Linked DNA regions of Homo sapiens: region 2 is linked to region 1. The links come from fine-mapping of genetic effects on gene expression. A gene starts in region 1. The other region holds a variant in brackets. All regions are shown on one strand. Distances are from middle to middle.

Region 1 (4,398 bases):
ATTAACCTGAAGTAAAGTGATTGAAGTAACCCTGAATAAAAGTTATTCAAAAGCTATTTCAGTGACACAATAGCAATGGATATATACAGCAAATTGACTCTGATACAATGCCAATGATCACATCTTTTCACTCTGAATTAGTGATCATGGATATTTTTAAAAATATGTGTTTGGTGCAAACTTTGCAAATACACATAAAAATACTGGATTTTCTAATCCCTGAAAGAAACTCTCTTCTTTCACCTCTCAGTCGTGTAAGAGTTAACTCTGTTTCCTACAAGGATGCAATCTGTAAGTTAGGTCTGGAAGGCAGCAAAGGCAACCTGGACTTGAAGTTAACACTTCTGTTGTCAAGGGTTACTGATTGGGGGAAGGGAAGGGGCTGTAAAGGGAAAGAGTTACGGAAATGAAGAGGGATTGTAGCACACACTACATAAATTCAAATGCTTTACATGTATTTGGAATAAGATCTCGAGTCTGTTGTATTTTTGCATTGTGTTTTCATTTATTTAGTTTACACATAGGTAGTGAATTTATAGGTTGGTTGATGTTAACCTTATCCAGAGTGGCCCTTTCCAACAATGTTCATTCAGTTGTACATTACATATATGTAATAATTTTGTAATTAAATTGGAATTTATCACAATTATTTACATCAAAGACAATAAAATTATGTTACTTCCTAAATTATAATATCAGTAAATATCGTATCTAGGATTTTGTGGAAAGTCTATGTCATTTTAGTTTAAATAAGGATTTCTCTTTTCCTCCACAAAATTAAAGGTCAAAGAAAACAGCATGTTTAAGACTTCAAATTAATATATATTAAGATTCAGCATTTAATATTCTAATTCTTAAAATAACTGGCTTTACCGATGATGAACTAAAGTGATTTTGCACACTATTACAATATTTCAAATTGCTAGTCACCACAGGTCGGCCTCACTTTAAATCTCCTTGTTATGCCAATTTGCATTACTAATGAACTTGCTAAGAGAGAAACTGTAAAAAGATAATGTAGCAATTAATAGTAAATGCTTGACATACTGTGACATTATAATACCTTTATGTTGATTTATATCTTTATGTCAATATTTACAAGGAAAATATTTTTGAATTTCTAATTTTGCGAAGTAAAAATGATGCTGACGCCATTGTCATTGATGGAATTTTTTCTGTAGCATTTGACTAATATAACCCGTGTTTTATAATTGGTAGACTCATATTTTAGCTTCTACTATCTACTACCCATGTAAGGTATTTTATTTGTAGTAGCTATGAATTGTAAATACAATTGGGTGTTGTGTGTACCTACGTGAAGTGCAGAAGTATTTGATTATATAAAATTTCCTGGATTTATATGAGAATAATGCATAATAGAGAGCAAAAGAGGGTTTTCCTGCCAAAAGTGTCTGTGTGAATTTTCCTTCGAAAATGTTCTTTTAAAATCCTTTGTATGATCAAAGCCACTCCACACAGACAATTAAAAGCAGCTATGGAATGATAGATCACATGACAGGAGTTAAATGTAAGGGTTTTTTTTTTTTTTTTTCCTCCCCCCTCGGTTAAACATCGCAGCAGGCATTACAATACCAGAGGTAACGAATCAATTAAATCCATTTTCCCCTCGGCGTCTCCAAAGCTGCGTGCCTAGTGTTGCTGTGTAGTTTAGACCGGAGCAGTAGGACCCAGGGGCCTCCGCAGCCACCAATAGAAGCGCACACTTGGACCTATTTGTATGCAATGCCTTCTGCTCTGCGCATTAATAGTAATACAGATAACGGGTTTGAAAGAATTCTCTACTGAAGAAGGATTGAATTTTTCCAGGGTGCTGATACAGAGAAGAAACCCGACTTCACTCTCTCCCTATTTCCCCACTCTTAGGTTTAAAAGTCTGTCACCTTTCGCTTGGTTTAAACTCGGAAAGGTCTCAGTGCACAGCAAAGTTGCAGGGCTGCGTCTGCACTACGGAGCCTCTAGATTGCTGAAAACAGTCTTATGGAAGGGTAAGTCTCGGAAATGGTTGCAAGGGAAGTGACAGCTGGCTTTTGATTTGTAAAAGGGGACACGCTGGGTTTTACACTAGTGGTTGTTGGAGTGCAGAATGGTTGCCGAGAGGACTCTGCAGTTTATCCAGAAATTGTGGCTGATGCGCCAGGGTGTTTTGGGGTAGAATCAAAAACCTTCAGGCTAAATCGGAAATTGCAGCCTTGCGATCGGGAGGGATTCAACAAGTTTTCCTGCAGGGATGCGATGTTTGTTTCTTCCTTGCCAGTTGTGCAGAGTGTCCGTTCCAGGTAGGCTGCGGCTGCTTAACAAAGAAGTTTTGGAATTTGTTTGTTGTGTGTGTGGCTGGGCTAACCCTTGTTGGAGTAGGTTTCGTGCCGCTTTTGGCTTCTTGGGGGCACACAGCGGAATTTGCTCTAGGGATGCGGCGAGCATCAGCGGTGTAGTGGGCTGGGGCCGGGCAACTTTGCAGCCTAATCTCAGTGCCGCTGACCGCACCGTTGTTCGTGATGTGAGCTGACTGAGGCATAGACACGGGCAGGCTGCAGGGAGCTTCCAAACTTTGAAAGCATTCTCCAGGAATGGATGCGCGTGGGGGCTTTGAAAATAAGCGTTACTAGGTGGATTTTGGTAAACTCTTGGCGGTATGTAGGCAGTGGGGACTTTTGACACTTGCATTTCCAACCTGCAGGATTTTGCTTGAAAACATGGTGCTGATGTGAAGACGAGAGCTTAAAGCTAAGCCAGCGGGGACTTTGAGGGAGGAAATGAGGGAGGGAAGGAGGAAGAATGAGAGAAGACAGATGAATGAAAAAGGTGCGTCCCATCTTTCACACACAAAAACCACACGAGTGGGACGAACCAGGAAGCGCTCCAGTTGGTGGCGTTTAGCTGGAAAACGTATTGCAGGGAGGTCCAGGAGCCTCTGCATTATTGATGAAACGCCGTGCCCTTCTGGGGCCCCTTCTTGCTCCTTCTCCCTGCCCCATCTTGCCAGCCCCGCTTCCATGAGCCTTCGGTTCCAGCGTTGGCGCGGGTGCGGCTGCGCGCGCGGCTGGGTCCCACAGCTCTGAGAACACAATGGGGAGAAGCAGGCGAGCCCTGCGGGCGGCCGATGCGGAAAACTCGGCGTGGCAACCCCACTGCTGCAGCCTGGGCTGCCGCTCCACCCGGGGCAGCGGCGCTGCAGAGACGGCTTCTGCCCAGTTGCCACGCGCCCTGAGGTCTCGGAGGACCGCGTGGAGGGCGCTCACACCTGGCCGCTAAAATCCTGGGATACCCTTCTAGGAGTCACTGTGTCCCACGCAGATGGGTGGGGTGGGGGAGACGGAATGCTAAGACATCCCACTCCTGCCTCGAGTCGGAGCTCCCACTACTCAAATATCCTTAGTGTGCACCCCAAGCATCTAGAGGACCTGCGCCCCCAAGAAAAAAGGACACGAAGGGGGAAAGAAGGGAAATGTTGATGAGGCTGCAAGAGGGGAAGGAAAACAAGCAATTTAGGGCAATTATGGTCAATGGTCAGGCTTTTCTGGGCTCTTTTAAGTGGATTGATTTAGAGGAGCTTTGAAATGCTGTCCCTGGCCTGTCTGCGGCACTAAAGGGGGCAGATTTCCAGACGCAGGAACTCACTGGAGGCTCCTTCTATAGATGAAGGGAGGAAAGGGCAGGGCAGGAGGCTCATTTCACAGGGTAGTTTAACCCTGACCTCAGCACCTCCCACCCTTTCACGCCCCGCCAAGGAGTGCCCCGACCTTGTAAACTCCTCTGTGTCATCTGCCCTGTGTAAGTGATTTTCATCAAGCTGTGTGTTACAGAGGCCTGTTAAGAGATGGTTGTCTGTTTCCAAGTAGTGGTGGGAGGTTGTTTAATTTGGAGGTTGCTTGTCAACCCGGGCTGAGCGCACAGAGGAAGGAGCGTAGATGCAGGACCCTATAGAATGGGCCACTTGGGGTTGTCAGTTACTTGAAGGCTACACATCAAAGGAAATATACTGATTGAGCACCTGGGGGAAGACAATGCCATTTCATTTTTTCCTCGCTTTCCATGTGCCTCCTTTACTGTGGTTGTTTGGGAACTAGGATATAATAATTACAAAAAAAAGTTGAAAATCCACTGATTTATTTGGAAGCCTCATAACTGGGTTTTCAGGCCCAAACTTGTATTCTCCTAGCAGCTATTATTTTGAAAGCCTCAGTCTGACACCTTAAAACCTGCTTCTCTACTATATCTTGAGGAGGCACTGGTAACTTTCAAAGGCAATCTGTAAGCATGCATCATGTTGATTTTGTTAAAGGGAAGAGGCAGTGTTGGTAGATGTTCCATCAATATTTGCCCTTCCAAAATCGGCCCCCACCCCCCAAAAAAAGGAAGAGGAAGCAGCAGCAGCTC
Region 2 (4,398 bases), 990 kb after region 1:
AGGAGAGGAGTGGTATGTTATGTTAGAATCACATGGGAAACTGTCAAACTACACCCACTGCTTCACTTTTCTGAAGCTTTTATATACCCACTTGGGGTTAGAGTTTGTGCTTTGAGGCTACCTAGATAGAATTAAATGTTAGAGTTAATCTAGATGAAGAAGTTGGCTAGCATCTAATTTAACATGTGAAATTGGAGTCGGAGAGAAGGTGACTAATTTGAGAGAAAATTGTGTGATAAATCTGACTATTTGGATATGGGACTGATAGAGCAGGAGAATTACAGATTGACTCTAGGGTGTTCTGGCTTACTTATATATACTAATAGAGGAAATGGATAAGGGCAAAAAGTGGTTACTGTGCTGTTTTGTTGTCATTGTTGTTTTAGAGTAGTGATATTGCTGAAATCCGTTTGTATTTAGGGTTCAACTATATGAGGTATCCAAGTGTTTATGTACCAAGGAAGTGAGAACTATTTGTTTAGGTTTTGGTAGAAATAAATCTGAGCTGTGATTATAGATTATGGAGACTCCCACATAAAGACAGTGCCTAACATCATGGGGTTGAATAGTATCATTAAGTCAGGAACAATATTCCACATAAAAAGAAGCAGGGGTGAGTTAGAGAACCTAAAAAATCATAATAAAAAAGAAAACACGGAGAAAAATCCAGTCAAGAAGACAGAGAAGGAACAGCTGGAGATAAGGGAGGAGAAGCAGCAGAAATGAATGTGGTAGGCACCAAAAGAGACTAGAGTTGCCAAGAAGAAGCAGGTCAATAGTAATGAATTCTGCACAACAATCAACTCATACAAAGCCTGAAAATAGGCTTCCTGATCAGACAAATTAGGAGATTTGTAAAAGCTGATGTGAAAAGAGTTTCCACAGGGTGAGCAAACAAATTGAGGCAATCTGTCTCAACGTTAAAATTATTTTGGCAGTAGAGGAAGGCGTACAATAAGAAAGTACCATCAGGGAAAGTTTGGGGACATGACAGGAGAGATAAGGGCATGCATGTATATGGAATGAAAAAAAAAATCTAGAAATACAAAAATGGCGCCATGCAAAATCAAACTTGTACCTTGCTCTAACTGAGCCCAGATTACTTATTGTTAGTATTTTCTTTATTGGCTAAGGTATTTTGAATTTTGGAAATTGCGTCTTATTGTAATATGCTGCTTTAACACGTAGCTGTGGCATGCAGTCTCAGTTAATAAGACTAACATATGTGAATTTTTTTTTATACTTTAAATTCTGGGATGCATGTCCAGAACATGTAGCTTTGTTATACAGGTATACACGTGCTATGGTGGTGTGCTGTACCCATCAACCTGTCATCTACATTAGGTATTTCTCCTAATGCTATCCCTCTTCTAAGCCCCCAACCCACTAACAGGCCCTGGTGTGTGATGTTCCTCTCCCTGTGTCCATGTGTTCTCATTGTAAAACTCCCCCTTGTGAGTGAGATCACGTGGTGTTCAGTTTTCCGTTCCTGTGTTAGTTTGCTGAGAATGATGGTTTCCAGCTTCATCCATGTCCTTGCAAAGGACATGAACTCATTCTTTTTTACGGCTGCATAGTATTCCATGGTGTATATGTGCCATATTTTCTTTATCCAGTATATCATTGATGGGCATCTGGGTTGGTTCCAAGTCTTTGCTATTGTGAACAGTGTTGCAATAAACATATGTGTGCATATGTCTTTATAGTAGAATGATTTATAATCCTTTGTGTATATACCCAGTAATGGGATTGCTAGGTCAAATGGTATTTCTGGTTCTAGATCCTTGAGGAATCGCCACAGTCTTCCACAATGGTTGAACTAATTGACACTCCCACCAACAGTGTAAAAGCGTTCCCATTTCTTCACATCCTCTTCAGCATCTGTTGTTTCCTGACTTTTGAATGAACAACATTCTAACTGACGTGAGATGGCATCTCATTATGGTTTTGATTTGCATTTCTCTAATGGCCAGTGATGGTGAGCTTTTTTTCATATGTTTGTTGGCTGCATAAATGCCTTCTTTTGAGAAGTGTCTGTTTATATCCTTTGCCCACTTTTTGATGGGGTTGTTTGCTTTTTTCTTGTAAGTTTGTGTAAGTTCTTTGTAGATTCTGGATATTAGCCCTTTGTCAGATGGGTAGATT[G/A]CAAAAATTTTCTCCCATTCTGTAGGTTGCCTGTTCATTCTGATGATAGTTTCTTTTGCTGTGCAGAAGCTCTTTCATTTAATTAGATCCTATTTGTCAATTTTGGCTTTTGTTGCCATTGCTTTTGTTGTTTTAGTCATGAAGTCTTTGCTCATGCCTATGTCCTGAATGGTATTGCCTGCATTTTCTTCTAGGGTTTTTATGGTTTTAGGTTTTACATTTAAGTCTTTAATCCATCTTTAATGAATTTTTGTATAAGGTGTAAGGAAGGGGTCCAGTTTCAGTTTTCTGCATATGGCTTGCCCGTTTTCCCAGCACCATTTATTAAATAGGGAATCCTTTCCCCATTGCTTGTTTTTGTCAGGTTTGTCAAAGATCAGATGGTCGTAGATGCGTGGCGTTATTTCTGAGGCCTCTGTTCTGTGGTCTAGGTATTTGTTTTGGTACTAGTACCATGCTGTTTTGGTTACTGTAGCCTTGTACTATATTTTGAAGTTAGATAGCATGATGCCTCCAGCTTTGTTCTTTTTGCTTAGGATTGTCTTGGCTATGTGGGCTCTTTTTTGATTCTATATGAAATTTAGTTTTTTCTAATTCTGTGAAGGAAGTCAGTGGTAGCTTGATGGGAATACCGTTGAATCTATAAATTACTTTAGGCATTATGGTCATGTTCACAATACTGATTCTTCCCATCCATGAGCATGGAATGTTTTTCCATTTGTGTCCTCTTTTATTTCCTTGAGCAGTAGTTTGTAGTTCTCCTTGAAGAGGTCCTTCATGTCCCTTGTAAGTTGTATTCTTAGGTATCTTATTCTCTTTGTAGCAATTGTGAATGAGAGATCACTCATGATTTGGCTCTCTGTTTGTCTATTACTGGTGTATAGGAATGCTTGTGATTTTTGTTGAATTCTACCAGAGGTACAAAGAGGAGCTGGTACCATTCCCACTGAAACTATTCCAAACAATAGAAAAAGAGGGACTCCTCCCTAACTCATTTTATGAGGCTAGCATCATCCTGATACCAAACCCTGGCACAGACACAACAAAAAAAGAAAATTTCAGGCCAACGTCCTTGAGGAACATCGATGCGAAAATCCTCTATAAAATACTGGCAAACCCAATCCAGCATCACATCAAAAAGCTTATCCACCACGATCAAGTCAGCTTCATCCCTGGGATGCAAGGCCGGTTCAACATACACAAATCAATAAATATAATCCATCACATAAACGGAACCAATTACAAAAACCAAATGATTATCTCAATAGATGCAGAAAAGGCCTTCGATAAAATTCAACACCCTTCATGCTAAAAACTCTCAATAAAATAGGTATTGATGGAACATATCTCAAAATAATAAGAGCTATTTATGACAAACTCACAGCCAATATCATAGTGAATGGACAAAAGCTGGAAGCATTACCTTTGAAAACCGGCACAAGGCAAGGATGCCCTCTCTCACCACTCCTATTCAATATAGAATTGGAAGTTCTGGCTAGGGCAATCAGGCAAGAGAAAGAAATAAAGGGTATTCAAATAGTAAGAGAGGAAGTCAAATCGTCTCTGTTTGCAGATGGCATGATTGTATATTTATATATTTCCTTAACCCAATAAGCAACTTCAGCAAAGTCTCAGGATACAAAATCAATGTGAAAAAATTTATAATACAAAGTAAGCCAAACTTTTTGTTTTGGCTCCTCCTTTAAATTAAATGCTGTTACATAAAAATACTCACTTAAAAGGATAAGGTATGTGCTCAAACAGTGGGTGTGATTTTGATTTGTTTACAACCATTTCCCATGACTTTCAACTACAAACAAATATGAAGAATGCTGGTTTACATTATATCTATCAGTTTCAATAGCAATAGTGATAAGAAAAATGATGGGGTACCAGATGGCATTGGTTGTATATATATCATAAGGAAATTGTGAAACAGACAAAGTACATCTTCATGAGCCCATACTTCTGTCTCAGCATGTCTTTTGTCTCTTGTTTCAAAATCGTCTTTAAATTGACATCACTAGCTGTATACTGTCTTTGAACCTTCCTCTGGTCATCAGAAGTTAATGTTTGTGAGTGGAATCAAATAAGTTAGCTTATTTACATTCAGATATTATTGGTACTGTTTTAATTAGTAACCAAAGATGTCTGTTCCTGTAATTTATCTGTATTCTAATTAAGTTAGCATATTTCAGAAGTTTGCTATTCAGTTTGGCATAAACTTTCCATCCACTTAAGGATAGTCAATCT

What was found. PIP is the estimated chance that this variant, and not a neighbour inherited with it, causes the effect.
Region 2: its variant is the best candidate, but not a certain one, in a credible set for the expression of ROBO1 in thyroid (GTEx, PIP 0.63).

What each region holds. Positions count from the first base shown.
Region 1 is chr3:79,765,360-79,769,757 of GRCh38, reverse strand. It overlaps ROBO1 (roundabout guidance receptor 1), which reads left to right and starts at 1,760. Exons shown (of 31, transcript NM_002941.4): 1 at 1,760-2,006.
Region 2 is chr3:78,777,094-78,781,491 of GRCh38, reverse strand. All of the region lies in intron 4 of ROBO1 (roundabout guidance receptor 1), which reads left to right. Among named protein-coding and RNA genes, the nearest start is that of MIR3923, 730 kb to the left of the region's middle. The variant G/A (reference allele first, on the strand shown) is at 2,146.